Linked DNA regions of Homo sapiens: region 2 is linked to region 1. Evidence: fine-mapped expression QTL. A gene starts in region 1. The other region holds a variant in brackets. All regions are shown on one strand. Distances are between the middles of the regions.

Region 1 (4,396 bases):
CTCAGGAGACAGAATCAAAGTTTCACCACGAACAATGCATCCCAGTGTGACCCTCCGTCTTCCACACCTATAAAATGGAGGGAACACCATCTTCACAGAAGGCTAGGTGAGAAACTGAGAATCAATGAATGAGATGTTGCTTTAGAAGCTTCAAGCCCTATACAAATGCAATTTATTGTTACCTCTGCCCTAGATTTCCCTTCCCTCAAATGATATTCTGTAAAAGCCAGATGTTCTTACTGAAACCAATCCAGTCAAGTCGATATTCACTAACTCTCCCTTCAGAACGCTTCCGGCTGTCATATGGACCACCAAGCAAGAGTGTATGAAATAAACATAAGGTGTTTAAAAAATAAACATAAGGTGACAGCCTTAAAGACAAAACTAATGTTTCAATTTTTTAAGATTTTAGGAATTATACAATGAATATATGTATATAATTTTTATTTTGTACTATATTTTATGTATATAGCACATATATATCCAACAGTGTGCATTATGATGGAAATGCTGTGTAATGCAAACACTATTCATTAATTTACTATAGGAACCAAAACCTAGGAACGATTGAGATAGTAGAAAAGGAAGCCAAGCGGACAAGAGTTTGCTGCTCTGCTTGAAACACAGTAAAAGAAAACGGTGAGTGCCAAGAACTGCCATTTACACTCGGAAGCGCTCCAGGGAAGGTTAATACTACTGTGATTAATACTGTTTACAGAGCCAATAAATTTTAGGTAAACACCCAAAGGAGAGTTAAAGAGTTGTCTCATCGGTCCCATAAAGGCTGGTAAAAGGGGCGGGGAATGGTTCCACGCCAACCCTGTCCGTCACCGCAGAACTACCCACAAGCTTCGCATTCCTCCACCTCTCCCCTGACCCTGAGCTATCCGCAGGCTGCGTCTCCCACGCCCACCGCCAACGAACCGGGAGGGCCCAGATCGACTTCCTGAGGCCGGTGCAACTTACAAAGGAATGGATGCGGTCGCTGCCGCCCGGCCGGGCGGCCGGGAGGGTCGGCTCAGACCTAGGGAATCCGGCCTCCCCCGAGCTCCGCGCGCTCTGGCCGCGGCGACCGCTGCACTGACCCTCCCAACCGCGGCAGGGGGAACTGGCCCGCAAGGCCCTGGTGATCCGGCTGACCTGAAGGCTGGGAAAGAGGAGGCCCTGTCCTGAACACCTCAGAGAGCGGGGCCGTGGAGTTAGAACCCGAGCTCTGCAGTTCCTTGTAAAATAAAGTGCTGGTCCCACAGCTCTCTCGGAGGTCGGGCAACGTTTTCTCCCTCCTCCTCGAAAAACGCACTGGAATGAGTCCCTTTCATAATCTGAGGCTTGGAGGAAAAAATCCTTTGAACAACCTGCCATCTGAAAGTTGCACAGCCTTCAATTGGTGCTTTGTTGGTTTTTAAGTGGCCTTGAGCAACCACAGCCTCGGACCCCGGGCCAAAGCGGGGCATGAATTACCTTGTCAGTTGCAGCAAGAGATCCCCAGAGTCCGGAAAAGGAGAGCCGGCGACTGCGCGGGACTACACACCAATGGGGCGCCCCCCTCCTCCTGTCCCCTCAGTCTCTCCAGGGCCGCTGCCAGGGAGCTTGGCGATCGCGCCACACTCTCCGGAGCCCCACCCTTGGGAGCAGCAACCACCCAGAGGTCAAGCACGTTCCCCGCCGGGCGGCTGGCTGGGAAGCGCTCCGCTGGCCGCCGACCACACAGCCACCCTCTGCCCACCCTCTCCTGTGGACACCGCCGGAGCCCCGCCTTCCCCGGGCCCGGGTGTCTGTGACAGACTCTCCTAAGAGGCCACGTCCCCTCTTGCAAATCACTGGCCCAGCGCCCTGCACCGCGCGATGCACGGAGGGCGACTCTGTCACCCCGGCGGGGAGGAAGATTAGGGGAGCAGGGAGGCAGCACAGAGCTGGTCAGATAAGTTTGGATCGTTCACAACTAGTACGGATCCCAAGGACCTCCACGCCCGAGCTCTCCACGCCTCCGGCATTCTCTCTCGCACCGCGGGGAGCTAAACTGAGGCCCCGAGGAAAGGGCACGCAAAAGTTACTCCCATCTTCGACTCTGGGACTTGGGAAGCAGCTCGGGACGCCGATCCCAGGCGGAAGAACCACAGAAAGAGCCATCCTCCTCCCGGCCCCCGCCCCATTCCCTCGGGGGCTGTAGTCACATTACCAGCCCGAGGCTTCAATAATGCATGGGCTTACCTGCTGCCCGCGGGCCTCCTCGCCTGCCGGTCGCCACCGCCGCACCCCGAGCTGGCCAAGGGCTCCTCTAGGAGTTTGACACGGAGTAACCGCGGGGGTGTGTGCGAGTGTTAGTTTGGTGGTGCGATGTATTTAAAAAAAAAAATAAAGCTTGGAGAAGCAGACACGAACCGAAATTTTAAAAAAAGAAAGAAAGAAAGAGAAATTGACACCCGACTGAAAACGCCCCTTACTTGTGCAATCTTCCTGCCTGGTAGTTCCGCCAAAAACAAAACAGTCAAAGCGCAAACCTGGAAGGGGCGCGCAGGCACCAACTTTGCCAAACGCTACAGAGTTTTCCGTTTGCAGAAATGACCCAAAAGAAGGGGGGCGCCGCTCCCCGTGATTCCCCAATCGGCTTCTGGAGCCAGAGGCTCCTCCTCGCCCCTCGGCGGGAGAAAGCCCGCGGCCGGCTGCTGCTGCCCGCTTCCCTGCTCCGAGGAAAAACGACTCCACAACTTTGTGCGCGAGAGAGGCTCGCTCCTTCGGCGGCTCCTCCTCCTCCTCCCCGCTGCGGGCCTGCCCCTTTGTTGGAGCCGAGCGCTGGAGGCGGAGGAGGGAGGGTGGGGCGCAGGACCGCTGGGTCGCGCGTTGCCGCCCCCACCCCCCGGGAAGGGGCTCGCCTCCGGGCAGCCAGGGGTCCGCTCTCCAGATGAGAAGGGTGCAGATCAGCGCCAGCCCTCCGGCCCGCGCCTCTGCAGCGCTCCGGCTCCCCCTCGGCGCTCTCGCCCCGCCGCCGCCGGCCCAGCAACTTTGTTCCGGAAGATCAGCCCCACTACGTTCCCGGGTCAGCGTCTGCCGGGCCTCGGCGGTCACCGCGGCCACCGCGTCGGGAACTTGGCGCCCCAAGTCACCTGACTGCGCGCCCCGTCAATCAGCGCCGGCCCTGCGCGCCCTCCCAGCCCGCAGCAGCCCGGCTCGGCGCTTGGCTGGCCTGGGGCGCGCGCTCCAGAGTGAACCGTGCGTGCCGGGAGCCGGGAGTCCGGAGACCGAACCAGAATGGATGCCTCGAGCAGACACAATTCCCCTTATTCAGATTATCCGAAAATGTGAGTCACGTCCCCTTAGGCAAAACAGGTCTCTAGTTAGGGTGATATTTTTTTAAGAGATAAATTCCAATCTGCCTTCCAACTCACCCCATCTCAGTTTGCTGACGTTGCTGATTTTTTTTTTACCCCTAGTTCCAACCGTATATTTATTTTACATTATTTCTCTAGTGTCGTTGTTAATATTGAAAAAGAAGTTTTCTCTTACATTAGTTTGTATTACAAGTAGTGTTTGCGCTGACCTTATTTTTCTGTTTTCCAATATGCACACACAAACGCACATCTGTTATAGAGCCTGTTCCAAGCTTGAGAGGTTGACCAAAAAATATCTGGGAAGAAATGAGCTCGTGATGTGTGTGCATTTTTCTTATTTACACATTTCATTGCTCGTGTGTTCCTGTGATTCTTTTACACGATCAGCACACGTGGGAGGGGAAAGAAAACAGCAACCTGAGTTCCTAGTTCGTATTAACAGAGAAAAGGATGGTTGATACTGGAGCGCCGGTTTATTGCTGGCTTAATATTTGAGTTAATTTACGCGGCAGTAAAGATTAAACCACTAGGGGCCTTAAACTAATTTTCAGAAAGAGTTTACTCGCCTTTTGTTATAGTGAAAGTTTCCCCCATCCATCCCTAAGTGCTCCAGGGAGGGGGCAGGTAGGAGATTCCCAAAAGAGACTCTTCCTTGTAAGGTTTCTAGGACAGTTTCCTTCCTTTTGATGATTTTCTACGTATAAGCCAAATAAAATCCAAAGGATTAACTTGAAATGGGTATGATTTTATTCATTCACTTCATTCATTCATTTAACAAGCATCAGTTTAGGGCTGTCAGGTTTGCTGGTTCTGTGGGTAAAGCAAAGATAAATCTGATAGTGATCTTACCCTTAAAGAACTTGGAATGTAGTAGGTGAGATAAGACATGTAAACAAGTAAGTATATACAAGATCCGGGAGATAAATGCCATAAGAAAAGAACAGATCAAGTGCTAGCTGAGTATGGTCACATAGAGGGACTCCAGGATTTTTTCTTTCTTTCTTTCTTTCTTTTTTTTTTTTTTTTGACAGTGTCTCTCTCAGTTGCCCAGGCTGCAGTGCAGTGGC
Region 2 (4,396 bases), 330 kb before region 1:
CAAAATTTCACTTTCAAAATGGGGGCAGATATTAAGGCATCATTTTTAAGTCCTCTTCTCTCCTATGGAGTCCATCTAACTTTGTCTTCTTCTTTGTCATCTAACTTTGTCCATCTAACTTTGTGTTAGAAAATTAGTAGAACTGGGATATTTCACATTTTTGACACATTTTGACAAACCCAACCAAATTCCACAGCAACTTCACAAAGATTAATGTACATCTCCAGAAATAAATCACATAGAATAAAAAATGTATTCACCATTGAGAAATTTCACAAGGCACATTAACACCTTTTTCTGTGTAGACACCCAAAAGTTTTAAAGGTAAATTGGGCTTCTCCCATATTCTGGTTTAAGAGGTTGTAAAGTTGTATTCTGCTTCAGTAACTATTCAGCTTCATTCTATAATGAGTTGCATTTCTAGACTGACCAAATTGATAGGCAGAGTCCTCAAAGGATAATGGCATCATTTAAAGTAGAAGGCACTGCTTAAATGCCAAATAATCCTGATGGCATAAAAAACAGCTGTACTTTACTAATGAATATGACATTGTGGTCATACTACTACATATTGATTTAAAAATTAATAATGATAGTCTGGCACAATATTAAAAATGTGTTTATCGACCAATTTGATATGAATTTTGTTGTGCTTATTTAATCACATAGATACCAAATTCATAATATGCTACTAAGACCTCGAGGGAGTCATCTATGACTCTAAACTTACTATGATCACAAAGAAATTATATCTAAAATAATGGGCTATTGCTAAGTGTCAGCAAAATCGAATGATTCTATTTAAAAGATCAAATAGCTTAATCACATCAAAGTTATGCATGGTCAATTTAATCCTTATCTTTAAAAAGGCTCTTGTTGAAAGAATATAAATTCTGATGTGAGGAACATAAAAGTTGTTAAATACTATACCTAAATATATCATTTTAAATATTTGCATGTAAATAAAACATATTTGGTGTGTTCTAACTTTATTTGGCTGTTATTGTTGTGTTTAATGATACAGCACCATGCTTAGCTTTAACTAATATAGCATATAATATAGAGTATTTTAATTTCCAAACTTTAAACAATAATAACAGAGTAAAAGAACTGGGAAAAGGTTATCATTGTGCCAAGTACATAGTAGGCACAAAAATAAATATCTGTCAAATAAATGAATAGCTAGATGGGTAAATAAAATTAAAATGGGGCTCATTTTTTTAAAGTTTCTTGGTTAACTACTGACTACTAAGATTCTTTGAAGCAAATAGATTTTGAAAACCAACTCTAAAGTCTTTTAGCCTGTAACCAAAGTACAGTTAGTGCATGCCTAATAAATAAGCATGTGTTTTGTACATGCCTAGTTAATACATGGAAGATTAAATTCAAATGTCAAGCTAAAGACTGGTTTGTGGCAAAATATTCAAACAAATTGAAGAAATATTTATTAAGGAATACACTCAAGGAAGCACTGTACTTAGTAGTATCATCAATAAAAAGTAAATATAATATTTAAACTTGAAAAAATTTCAGCTGAATAAATTTCCAAATTTAGTGTGGCATTGTAGAGGAGAGGTAAAACCTCCAGTGGATATCCCAAAGCTTCCATTTTCCAATGTATGACAATGACATTAAAAATTATGACCCTAATTATAACTTTCAAATAGTGACAGATGGCTTCTCTGAATGGTCTCTGTACCTTTTAATTTAGTTTGCAAAAAAGATCCATCTGAATTACAATGTAAGTGCATTAACACTCACATGTATTCTCTTTTTAAACACCCAGGTGCAATTTAATCAAAGCAAGCTTTTAGAGAAACAATACAATACAGTCAAAGGAAAGGATTTCTCAATGTTCTGCTAAATCGAGGGATGGCTTTTTTGATTATCTGGAAGAATAGTTGAACTGCCCATTTCAAACAATCCTCCCTGAACTCCCAAGCAAGCTCTGCATGGTACCGAGTGGGTAGCAGTAAATTTGAGATTATGCTCCCCTGCAAGCATACTCCCCGGTAGAACAGTAGCTCTGTGCAGCTTATTCAATGCAAGGTGATCATGCTTCAACAGCTTGGCTATGCAGAGCAAGACTGATGGACATTTACGAAGAGCTGAAAAAAAAGAACACCTTCCTAAAGAGAAGTCCACCTCAACTCTCCTGAAATGATCTGAAGAAGTACAGGGGCCAAGTTCACTCAATGCAATCCCAAGGGCAATCTCCTGCAGTTCATCAACAAAGCATAGCCACAATGACTTTAGACTGGAAGATGTTCAAAGCAAACATAAATCAATACTCATAGTTCTGGTCTCCATAAACATAACCTCAGCAGATCCAGTATTAAGAAATATAACTTGCTGAAGCTGCCAAGAGGAATTTATTGCCAAACGCAAACCTGGATACCAAATTGAGGTGACTTACAGTTACACTACTTTAAATAGAGGAAATATCATGTGAAATCATGATGATGGTTTCAGAATAGTTAATTGATAGCAGGGATTGGATGGGTAGGCCAGTGGGTGATTAAAAACATTCTTAGTTATGTTTCTAAACATATCATTTGTATAATACAGAATGCTTCTCTTTTTGCTCACCAGAGTGATGGTATGGTGGATATAATTCAGCCAAAAGAGGCATCAAATCATTAA[G/T]AACTCACAATGTGCAGACAGATGGAAGACAGAACACATTCCTGACTAATCCCAATGAAAATTATCCACTGATATCTCAAGAAATCATTTCTATTGACCCTGAATGTAACCAACTACAGTATAACAGTATTATGGCACAAGTTCTGCTTGAAAATCAATAATGCAGGGTTTGAATTGAATTCATGGGACTTTATTCAATAATAGATTTCTGCTCACGGATTCAAAGGCAAAGGATAGTCAATAAAGGCCACAAATAGTCTTCCCGTATTCCTAACAGATTTCTACACCAGGTGGTAGAACGCTATGGCGGGCTGGCTGCACTGATGCCCACCTGCGCCTGGAATAGAACCTGGCACAAGAAACACAGGCTCACAATTTATAAGAGCGGAACTGGCATAGAATTCAGAGAGACTGTACAATGAGCCAGTGGGCATAAGATTTGGGGAGACTAAAGAATTCTTTTCTTGAAAAGGAAGTGGTAAGCCATTCTGGGTATTTTTAGAGGCTATTAAATAACTATAATAATATACATAAAAATCAAAGTAAAAGGCTACCAAAGATGTTCACTTTGGTTAATTTTAGATTGTGTGAAATTCACCTTTATTTTTAAAATCTTTTTTAAAAAAGGGCTTTTCAAAAAAAAAAAAAACTATCAGACAAAACACAAATTTCCGAAGTAACCACTGATCCATGAGTGCATAGGAAACAAACTGACTTATATTTGTCATTAGCATTACAAGGCTTGCTACTGCAAATTATAATGGCTTGTAGCTTAATCCAAAGGATTCGCTAACAGTTATTTCTCTCATCTTTATTATACATTTCTATAGATTAAAGGTATCCAACAAATTGTCTTTAAATTCTAGCCACAAACCCTGCTTTATTAAGTAGTTCTTAAGCAATAATGGTAATTATAATTAACTGTGTGAATTATTTAACAATAGTTCAGAATCAATACTTGTTAAATTATTCAAGATTTCACCTGTATGCTGTTAAGGCCCACTGCTTATCTAATTCAGAGTAACTGAATTAAACACAGTATAAAACATTGTACATCCTTAGGGTCCAATGCTACTGCCGAGAAGGAGTTACAACATGGAGATCAGTGAAAACTGTTTCAAGATAATGAGACACTAGTGCAAAGGTCCTGTGGTAGGAAGGCTTGGTATGTACAAGGAAGAGAAAAGAGCCAAATACAGTGGGCCAGGGGACAGGAGTGATGGTTAAAAATTTTTAAAATGTCAGAGAGACAAATGGCCCTGCCTGATCATGTAGGACCTGGTAGGGCAGCGTAAGGGGTTTAGATTTTATTATAAGTGTAATGGGAGCCTTTGGGTTGTTTCAAGCAGAGAACTGACATGACTTGGTTTATGTCATGTTATGTATTTGCTTCCATAACTTATGTTATGTATTTGCTTCAAATACTAGAAGCAAAAACAACACTTAGATGGCTACTCCATTTGTCTGGATAAAATGGCATGGCTTTGATGGATTAACCATGAAAATGAAGAGAGACAGATGATTAAGAATATACTTTGGAGGCAGAGACCAATGTGCTAGCTGAGGTACAACAAATAGGAATACATAGGGTAGGTGAAAAAATGAGCAATCAAGCGTGACTTAGAGTGTTCTGGTTTGAGCTAAAGGATTCAGAAACTAACTGAATGAAAAAGTCCTAAAGGGTATCATATGAGCACAGAGAAACTCCTAGTCCAGGTGTCTAAAGGGAAAGGCAGTGAGATAGGCTTCCCAG

Evidence for each region. PIP is the estimated chance that this variant, and not a neighbour inherited with it, causes the effect.
Region 2: its variant is the best candidate, but not a certain one, in a credible set for the expression of UTRN in whole blood (TOPMed, PIP 0.59).

Annotation. Positions count from the first base shown.
Region 1 is chr6:144,283,637-144,288,032 of GRCh38, reverse strand. UTRN (utrophin) reads right to left here and starts at 2,698. Exons shown (of 75, transcript NM_007124.3): 1 at 2,212-2,698. It overlaps LOC124901418, which reads right to left and starts at 1,535. Exons shown (of 1, transcript XM_047419641.1): 1 at 79-1,535. The coding sequence starts at 1,362. The coding sequence ends at 754. RefSeq lists silencers at 2,759-2,858, 3,069-3,128 and an enhancer at 3,259-3,328.
Region 2 is chr6:144,615,431-144,619,826 of GRCh38, reverse strand. The region is part of intron 51 of UTRN (utrophin); the gene reads right to left. Among named protein-coding and RNA genes, the nearest start is that of SNORA98, 210 kb to the right of the region's middle. The variant G/T (reference allele first, on the strand shown) is at 2,644.